Regions from separate parts of the Homo sapiens genome. Here all the other regions are reported to be linked to region 1. Evidence: microRNA targets listed by miRTarBase, many of them from high-throughput screens and not tested one by one. Region 1 holds a microRNA gene; each other region holds the end of a gene's coding sequence.
What was found. Region 1 holds the annotated microRNA hsa-miR-181c-5p (AACAUUCAACCUGUCGGUGAGU, at 1,947-1,968, opposite strand). A microRNA usually pairs through its seed, bases 2 to 8, with sites in the 3' UTR of a target mRNA and lowers its output. Matches are read on the target gene's strand: a 7mer-m8 pairs with bases 2 to 8, a 7mer-A1 pairs with bases 2 to 7 and ends in A, and an 8mer does both.

Region 2: the mRNA of GSKIP is a reported target of hsa-miR-181c-5p. Seed matches in the 3' UTR shown: 8mer at 1,941-1,948 and 7mer-m8 at 1,776-1,782.
Region 3: miRTarBase lists DUSP5 as a target of hsa-miR-181c-5p. Seed matches in the 3' UTR shown: 7mer-m8 at 1,605-1,611.

What each region holds. Positions count from the first base shown.
Region 1 is chr19:13,873,521-13,876,692 of GRCh38, reverse strand. It overlaps MIR181C (microRNA 181c), which reads right to left and starts at 1,994; the gene lies at 1,885-1,994. It overlaps MIR181D (microRNA 181d), which reads right to left and starts at 1,818; the gene lies at 1,682-1,818. It also overlaps a transcript of NANOS3 not described here.
Region 2 is chr14:96,385,296-96,388,295 of GRCh38, reverse strand. It overlaps GSKIP (GSK3B interacting protein), which reads right to left. Exons shown (of 4, transcript NM_016472.5): 4 at 1,008-2,773. The coding sequence ends at 2,612. Among named protein-coding and RNA genes, the nearest start is that of AK7, 5.3 kb to the left of the region's middle.
Region 3 is chr10:110,509,851-110,512,850 of GRCh38, forward strand. It overlaps DUSP5 (dual specificity phosphatase 5), which reads left to right. Exons shown (of 4, transcript NM_004419.4): 4 at 170-1,683. The coding sequence ends at 576. Among named protein-coding and RNA genes, the nearest start is that of DUSP5, 13 kb to the left of the region's middle. RefSeq lists enhancers at 2,342-2,421, 2,852-2,901, 2,982-3,000.

The DNA.
Region 1 (3,172 bases):
CCAGGCGGGAGGTTGCTGATGCTCCAGCTGTCTCTGAAAGGAGTGTGGTAGTCCCAGGCTCATGGGCTGGTTGCGGGGGTAGGGGGGAAGGATCATGCCCCCCGGCCCCCAGCTCTGGTCTCCCTCCAAGAGTTTTCACATCGGTTGTCTTAGTGGAACCCCCATTGAATGGATGAGCAAACTGAGGTGTGAAGCCACCTGCCCATCCAGTTATTTATAAAGACATGCACCAGGCCAGGGAGTGGTGGCTCATGCCTGTCATCCCAACAGTTTGGGAGGCCAAGACAGGCGGATCACCTGAGGTCAAGAGTTCGAGACCAGCCTGGCTAACATGGTGAAACCCTGTCTCTACTAAAAATACACACACACACACACACACACACAAAATTAGCTGGGCATGGTGGCGGGTGCCTGTGATCCCAGCTACTCAGGAGGCTGAGGCAGAAGAATTGCTTGAACCCAGGAGGCAGAGGTTGCGGTGAGCCAAGATCAAGCCACTGCACTCCAGCCTGGGAAACAGAGTAAGACTCTGTCTCAAAACAACAACAACAAAAAGCACCACATCTGCCTCCTTCTTCTAGTTACTGGGGCCCCCTGAGGCTAGGTGCTGGGGAGGGAGCCCTTTCCTGGCGGGGGCTGCAGAGGGGTGAGAAAGAACCCTCTGGAGTTGGGAGGTGGGGGATAGCAAGTTGGGCTGTTAGGAGGGGACCCCTAGTACCTACAGGTCTTCAGTGTCCTCCCCGAGATGAGATCTCAGCTCAGTCCCAGGAGGGGAGGGTGTGCTCAGGACTTGGACACAGAGGAGAGACGCTGTGCCGCTTACACAGCTCATCCACCCATCCATTCATTTAAGAAACTTTTATTGGCCAGGCACTGTGGCTCATTTTGAGAGGCCGAGGAGGATTGCTTGAACCTAGGAGTTGGAGACCAGCCTGGGCAACGTTTTGAGACCCTGTTCCTACAAAAACACTTTTTCGAAATAAGCTAGGTGTGGTGGTGCGTGCCCGTGGTTCCGGCTACTGGGGAGGCTGAGGCGGGAGGATCAACGCTTGACTCCAGTTATTAGAGGCTGCAGTGAGCTAAGGTCACACCATTGCACTCCAGCCTGGGTGACAAGAGCGAGATCCTGTCTCTAATTTAAAAAACAAAACTATGGAGCACTCCACGGAGCAGAACTTACCACCCACATTTCAGAAAGGGGTTTTAGGCCAGGCAAAGTGGCTCATGCCTGTAATCCCAGCACTTTGGGAGGCCGAGGGGGGAGGATTACTTGAGGTCAGGAGTTTGAGACCAGCCTGGCCAACACAGTGAAATCTCGTCTCTACTAAAAATACAAAAATTAGCCCACTGTGGTGGCAGATGCCTGTAATCCCAGCTACTTGGGAGGCTGAGGCCAGAGAATCACTCAAACCCTGGAGGCAGAGGTTGCAGTGAGCTGAGATTGGGCCACTGCACTCCAGCCTAGGCAACAGAGTGAGACTCTGTCTTAAAAAAAAAAAAAAAAGGGGATTTTAGCTGCCCTGCCCCAGCCTGTTTACCCCCAACCCTCTAATATTTAGTCCCAAATCCAGCCAGAGCCCATCCAGATTCCAGACACCAGCTCTCCTCTCCAAAGAGGAGTGGTTGGGGTCAGGGCAAAAAACAGGCTGAGTGACTGTGGCGGTGGGGGGTCCTGTCCCCAGTCCCCATTCCCCTTAAGCCGTGTCTGGCCCAGCCACAGTGACATTCATCCCCCGGTGGGTCTGGCCTCAGTCCTCACAACCCACCGACAACAATGAATGTTGATTGTGACCTCGGCTGTGGCCTAGGGGAGGGGACGTGCCCAGGCTGGATTGGGGGCTCCCCAGGCCCCCCTAGATCTGGAAGGTCAGAGTCACCGGCAGGAGGATGGCAATTCCAGGCCTCAGGGTCCACTCAACGGTCGATGGTTTGCCTGAGCTGCCCAAACTCACCGACAGGTTGAATGTTCCCCCAAACCCTTGGCAAATTTTCCGGGACCTGGAGTCGGGGGTGGGGTAGGTGGCAGGGAACCAGAGAGCATGAAGAGGGAGAGGAGGAGAGAGTAAGGAACCCCTTTTCTCTCATGAAATAAACAAACGCTTTTCAGGTGCTGTTTGCACCTAGATCTGGGAAAAACACAAGGCAAATATAAATGCTAGTAAATAAAATGTAGCCTTTGCTATGGGGATGGAGATGTAGCAGTGCAGGGGAGTGCTGGCCTCAAGCCCGCTCCTTAAGTAATTCACAAAGTGATCCTGGAGGTGCAGATTACCCCCCTTTGTCAACTGGGGAGACTGAGGCCAAAGGCCACTGCTAGTCCGAGGTGGAGGAGGCATTCCAAGTGTTCCCGGGAAGTCTGGCAACGGAGGATCCTGGCCCCGAGGGCATTGATGCAACGTGGAGATAAACAAGCCATTTTAATACAATGTAATACGTTCTGGGAGCTTCACTGAGTTCCGGGCACGATGGTTTAGGAATCACAACAGCGTGAGTGGAGCGCTTGGGGGTGGGGGGTCGTCAGGTCTCTCCACTTTACAAGTGCACTGGGGCCCCACTAGACAGGGGAGAGGCAGGAGGTTCAGAGAGGGCGCCGCTCGCCCCGCGTGCGCGGTCACACAGCATCTGAACTCGGGCACTTCCGGAGGGAGTCCGCGCAGCCACGTGGGGGCTGCCCCTTGGGCCTCAAAACCGGCTGCGGCGCCCCCTCTCCATTTCCTCATCCCTCAAATGACCCCCAGTCCCTTCCTCCAGTGATCGCACAGAGTTCGGCGACCACCCCCCCGCCCCGGGTGCCCCCAGGCCTACAGGTACGCACCCCTATCTCCCACCCCCCGCAAGCCAAGCAGTGACGACCAGGGATGGGCGAGCGCGCCTTCGCCCCTGACCTGGGTCTGCGGACGGCCTAGGAAGGTGCACCCGGCATGGCCGGGTGCTGCGGCTCAGGCCTGTAATTCAGTATTTTGGGAGGCTGAGGCGGGAGGATCTTTTGAGCCCAGGAGATGGAGACCAACCTGAGCAACATAGCGAGATACCTGTCCCTACAAAAAAATTAGCTGGGTGTGGTGTAGTGAGCCTGTAGTCTTAGCTACTTAGGAGGCTGAGATGGGAGGATCGCTTGGACCCCAAGAGTTCGAGGCTCGAGGCTGCAGTGAGCCGTGATCGCGCCACTGTA
Region 2 (3,000 bases), not on the chromosome of region 1:
AGATGTAGCATCACTTTACCACTCTTTAGAGCCTTCCCAATTTTTCATTAGGGGAAATGAACATCCTTATATACTAGTTTTTTTGCTGAATCATTTCCCTATGCTAGGTTGCTAGTATATTACCAATTCAGAAGTTATAAACTTGTAAAGGATTTATTACCAATGTTTCCAGAAAGATTTCAACAATATACCCTCCAATAGAATGTAAGAGTGCTTCCTCATTAAATCCTTACTGGTATTAAGTTTAAATAAGAAGAATCACAAAAGTAGCAGGTGAAATGACCCAATAACTTAAAATTTCTCTTTCTTGAGTTAATGGTTGGGTTGGGCCTCTTTCAAGTAGTTACTGACATCTATTTTTTTTTCTGAGTTGACCATATTATTTGCCCACTGTTTGCATTTTTTCTTCCTACTGATTTGTAAAAGTTATTTATATAAAAGTTTTTTTTTTCTTTTTCCTTTAGAAGTGAAATCAAGGCTTAATTTATCTGGTTAAGTTTTATAATTTTCATTTTTTTTTTTTTTTTTTAAGAGACAGGGTCTTGTTCTGTCATCCAGGCTGGAGCGCAGCAGCACGATTGTAGCTCACTGCAGTCTCCAATTCCTGGGCTCAAGCAATCTTCATGCTTCAGCTTTCCTAATAGCTAGGACTGCAGGCATGTGTCACCAGGCCATGCTTTTATAATTTTTTGTAGAAATGGGATCTATGTTGCGCAGGCTGTCTTGCACTCCTGGCCTCAAGTGATCCTCCTGCCTGGGCCTCCCAAACCACTGGAATTGCAAGTGTGAGCCACGACACCTGGCCTATCTGCTGGTTAAGTTCTTTAAACAGACCAGGTAAAATGGAGGTTTTAATATCTAGATTCTCATGTATATCTGTGTAGTTTTATTAATGTCCTCTCCTCTTGTTCCTCATTGCTCTTTCATAGTAGTAACAAGAGAAAGCTCACTTCAGTCATTTCAAATCCAAATGTAACAATGCAGAATTAAAAAATGGAAACAAGCTCTTGGAATTAATCATTTATCACAAAATGAACAATTTCAATTCTTAAACATACAATCACTTTTTTTCATACTAACTCAAAATGAGTAAACAGAATTTTATTCAAACTTTACAAATATCATTTACATTTAGCCTGAGATTAAACATGAGAAAGTTCAACCTGAAGTTAGACTTCGTTGCCCAGTTAAGCATCTGAAAATAAAGCTGAGAATGAACATACATCATCAAACAAAGCATTCCAATGAAGTCTGGCAATGAATTGTGACACAAACTGAACTTTAATTTGCTCTGGTCCACATGATCTTCAGAGCCTAAAAGTTCCTGTTTTTTAATAATGATGGAAAAATATCTGCAAATGATAAATGCATGAAGGTATGACCAGATGCAAAATTTTAGTTCAACATTTCTATAGCAGCTGCTTTAGGTGACCATTAAAAAACAACTCCCCAATCCTTACTGTTCAACATGTACTTGAAAACATGCAGCAGCATGGTACAGTTTATTAAATTTATAAATATCAGTACCTGTAATAAAATATAAAATACTGACTATTCCTTTTTCAAATATTAAGTCTCTGAATGCTTCATTCATCCTTTGGTTTCAAACCCATACAATGCACTCATATTACATTGTAGATTTCGAATGGAGACAGAACACTGTACATCTGTTGGGGAAGGTGGGGTGCTGTAGGAATACCAAAGCACTACATCATAGAAAGTAAACGTTGAAGCAAAAATACTTTCTGAATATATACTGTACATTATGTAAACACACATTCAGAATAAGAATCAACACAGGCCAAAATATTGTTTTCTAGGAAACCAGAATCTTCTTTCTTTTAAATCACACACTGAAGATGCTTTTTTGTTAAGAAAAAGAATGAAGTCTGTTCCTGTATTTGCTTATGTGCTTAGATATCTTGGAAATGAGTAATTATTACATTCATTTGCTAACGGTTTATCCTCTGCTTAGTTGGCTGGCTGTTGCAAACACGGAATACAGAACTATTTCAGTCCCTGTTTTTCATTTAATACTAGTTAAGTAATATATAATTAATTCATCTTTATTAATCCATTATTAGTAATATAAATAGATTAAGTGAAGCAGTGAATTTCAAAATTTGTGCAGGGGAAACTAGTTGATAATTTGTTTCCAATAAGGCTGGTAGCAATTAATTACTACAAAGTTTGTCCAAGCTAGTATTGAACCCCTGATTTAGCAGGCTGAATCAAAGTGTATAGTTAGGTACTTCTAATTCCTCTATTACTGTGCAAATCTAGAATTTCCTATGTAAAAGACAGTGCTGGCAGCATCAAAGCCCTGTAATAGTATGAAATAGTGATTAGGATTTGAAATGAAGAGATATTATATGAAGACATGTGAATGTCTTAATGATGGTATCATAGCAACGGCCTCAGAATTCCCTTACTGAAACAGAAACTAAGACAAATCATTATTCAATAATCTTCTGAGCCAAAAGCCTAAGTTGGAAGCAAGTGATAAAAACACAAAACCAAAGATGCATTTTCTATGACCATATGCAAGAATTTTAAGCTTTATATCAACATTCTGTACCAGCACCAGCCCCTCTGAAAGGAAAAAGTGTAGTCATGACTGTCCATCTCTTTTCAAAGCTTCCAGTCTTTGAAGCAGTGCGTTTCCAAATGCTTCTCGGTAGGCGGGGCTGAGTGTATCCAACAAGGAGTAGACTGTTTCATGGTAGGGAGTCTGTAAATGATCATCTACCTGGTCAAAAGCATAGCCTACCACCTACAAGAGAAATGCAACAGTGAATTCATTAGTTTTCATGTTGGTACAGAAAGCAAAATCCAAGTGTTTATGTGAGTAATCATCCTTTCAAAAAAATAAATTATTTCTTTTCCTAGCCACTAGACCACCAGATACATGGGTAACTGAGTGAAACTATTTCTCAAAGTCAGAGTATACACATTTTAAATACAACCTTTAATACTTCAGCAACTTATAATGTATAACAC
Region 3 (3,000 bases), not on the chromosome of region 1:
TCCTCACCAGTGGGGATTAAAGACTGGCAGAAGTGTAGTGTAGGGCCGTGGCTCTTAGGCAGGCACAACAGTTTCATATCTAGGTTACTCCAGTGTTTGATTCTTGTGTTTTGCCATTGCCCTTAGATTCTAATCCCAACTCACTCCCACCATCTTTTCTTCCTTCCAGACTGTGTCAGGGAAAAGGGAGGCAAGGTCCTGGTCCACTGTGAGGCTGGGATCTCCCGTTCACCCACCATCTGCATGGCTTACCTTATGAAGACCAAGCAGTTCCGCCTGAAGGAGGCCTTCGATTACATCAAGCAGAGGAGGAGCATGGTCTCGCCCAACTTTGGCTTCATGGGCCAGCTCCTGCAGTACGAATCTGAGATCCTGCCCTCCACGCCCAACCCCCAGCCTCCCTCCTGCCAAGGGGAGGCAGCAGGCTCTTCACTGATAGGCCATTTGCAGACACTGAGCCCTGACATGCAGGGTGCCTACTGCACATTCCCTGCCTCGGTGCTGGCACCGGTGCCTACCCACTCAACAGTCTCAGAGCTCAGCAGAAGCCCTGTGGCAACGGCCACATCCTGCTAAAACTGGGATGGAGGAATCGGCCCAGCCCCAAGAGCAACTGTGATTTTTGTTTTTAAGACTCATGGACATTTCATACCTGTGCAATACTGAAGACCTCATTCTGTCATGCTGCCCCAGTGAGATAGTGAGTGGTCACCAGGCTTGCAAATGAACTTCAGACGGACCTCAGGGTAGGTTCTCGGGACTGAAGGAAGGCCAAGCCATTACGGGAGCACAGCATGTGCTGACTACTGTACTTCCAGACCCCTGCCCTCTTGGGACTGCCCAGTCCTTGCACCTCAGAGTTCGCCTTTTCATTTCAAGCATAAGGCAATAAATACCTGCAGCAACGTGGGAGAAAGAAGTTGCTGGACCAGGAGAAAAGGCAGTTATGAAGCCAATTCATTTTGAAGGAAGCACAATTTCCACCTTATTTTTTGAACTTTGGCAGTTTCAATGTCTGTCTCTGTTGCTTCGGGGCATAAGCTGATCACCGTCTAGTTGGGAAAGTAACCCTACAGGGTTTGTAGGGACATGATCAGCATCCTGATTTGAACCCTGAAATGTTGTGTAGACACCCTCTTGGGTCCAATGAGGTAGTTGGTTGAAGTAGCAAGATGTTGGCTTTTCTGGATTTTTTTTGCCATGGGTTCTTCACTGACCTTGGACTTTGGCATGATTCTTAGTCATACTTGAACTTGTCTCATTCCACCTCTTCTCAGAGCAACTCTTCCTTTGGGAAAAGAGTTCTTCAGATCATAGACCAAAAAAGTCATACCTTCGAGGTGGTAGCAGTAGATTCCAGGAGGAGAAGGGTACTTGCTAGGTATCCTGGGTCAGTGGCGGTGCAAACTGGTTTCCTCAGCTGCCTGTCCTTCTGTGTGCTTATGTCTCTTGTGACAATTGTTTTCCTCCCTGCCCCTGGAGGTTGTCTTCAAGCTGTGGACTTCTGGGATTTGCAGATTTTGCAACGTGGTACTACTTTTTTTTTCTTTTTGTCTGTTAGTTATTTCTCCAGGGGAAAAGGCAATAATTTTCTAAGACCCGTGTGAATGTGAAGAAAAGCAGTATGTTACTGGTTGTTGTTGTTGTTCTTGTTTTTTATAGTGTAAAATAAAAATAGTAAAAGGAGAAAAGCACTTCTTCATGTTGTTGGTGAATTGGGATAAGGTAGGAATACCCTTGGGTGGGGACCCAGCCTGCTTCATTGGGATTTATTTGTAAATGAACAACAGGGTGATGGTGGTGGAGGTGCAGCTATAGGCATGACGATACAGAATGTTGCTTTCCAACTGAGGGGTTTCCCTAAGCTAACCGGCAAGAGAATTCCTTAGTGCAGGCCTCATAGGGAGGTGGTGAGAGTATCTGCCCACTCAGGGCCCTTCACTGCCATCGCACTAGGCAAAGAGCTCTACTTGAACCTCAGATTCCTCACCTGTGAAGAGTGAGCTGAGTTAGATGATCCCAAGAGTCCCTTAAAGCATAAGGCCCTTGGTTCCAGTAAGCCTGAGTGCCAAGCTTGTGGCCAGCTACCTCCCTCCAGTGCCTGGCATATGGCAGACTCAGAAAAGGCTGGGTAAGTGGCCAAGGGATGGAGAAGTGAATGAGGTGAAAGTTTGCCCTGCCAGCCTGCCTGACGCCCTCTTTCCACTCTTGCAACTAATTCTAGATAATTCCCCAGGAGTTCCAACGTAAATCCCTCAATGAGTAGGTTTAAATCCAAGGCTGAATCGACTTGCTTTGTGAGTAACTTCCTCTGCGTAGGTGGAGGAAGGAAGGGGCAGTTGTCAGCTTCTCCCCATGATTGGCTCTGCCTGGGCTCCAGCCTAACTCCTGGGTCCTGTTCCTAATCTGAGGGAACAGGGAGCTGGTTGGGGTTTATGCCATCCCAGTCAGCTGATAAATAACAGGGATTCCAGCCATACTTCTCAATGCTGGAGGGTCCAAAGGGTGTCCAGTTCTCCCGACATGCATTGTGTCAACAAATAGCAAGATGGTGGCAGAGCACAGGCAGCCCAGCTCTCTAAATTCCTCACCTCAAAGGCTTTGCGTGAGGTCTTTCTCTCCACCTGTCTTTCCTTTCCCCAACTGTGTTCAGAGGTTCCTTGGAAAGTCCACAGATGAGAAGGTCACCCAGGGTTAGGATGCTGAATTTCTTTCAGCCCACTCCCCTCATCTGTGTAACCAAACAGCTTCCACAGTGAAGAGCACTAGACCAGATGGTGAGAAGTTGTGGGTTCTAGCCCTTGCCCTTCCCCCAGCTCTCCAGTGGTTTGGAGCTAATCTCCAACCTCTGTGGACTAGATTTCTCCAGGGCTCTTATCTAGCTGGTGCCTAATCCCTCGTGGTGTCCCATCTCTGAGCCTCTGACCAGCCTTGGAGTGTGTCCCTGAAGCCTGCCCATTGTGTGGGCCTATGCAGGTGCTGAGTGGCTAAAGGAACCTT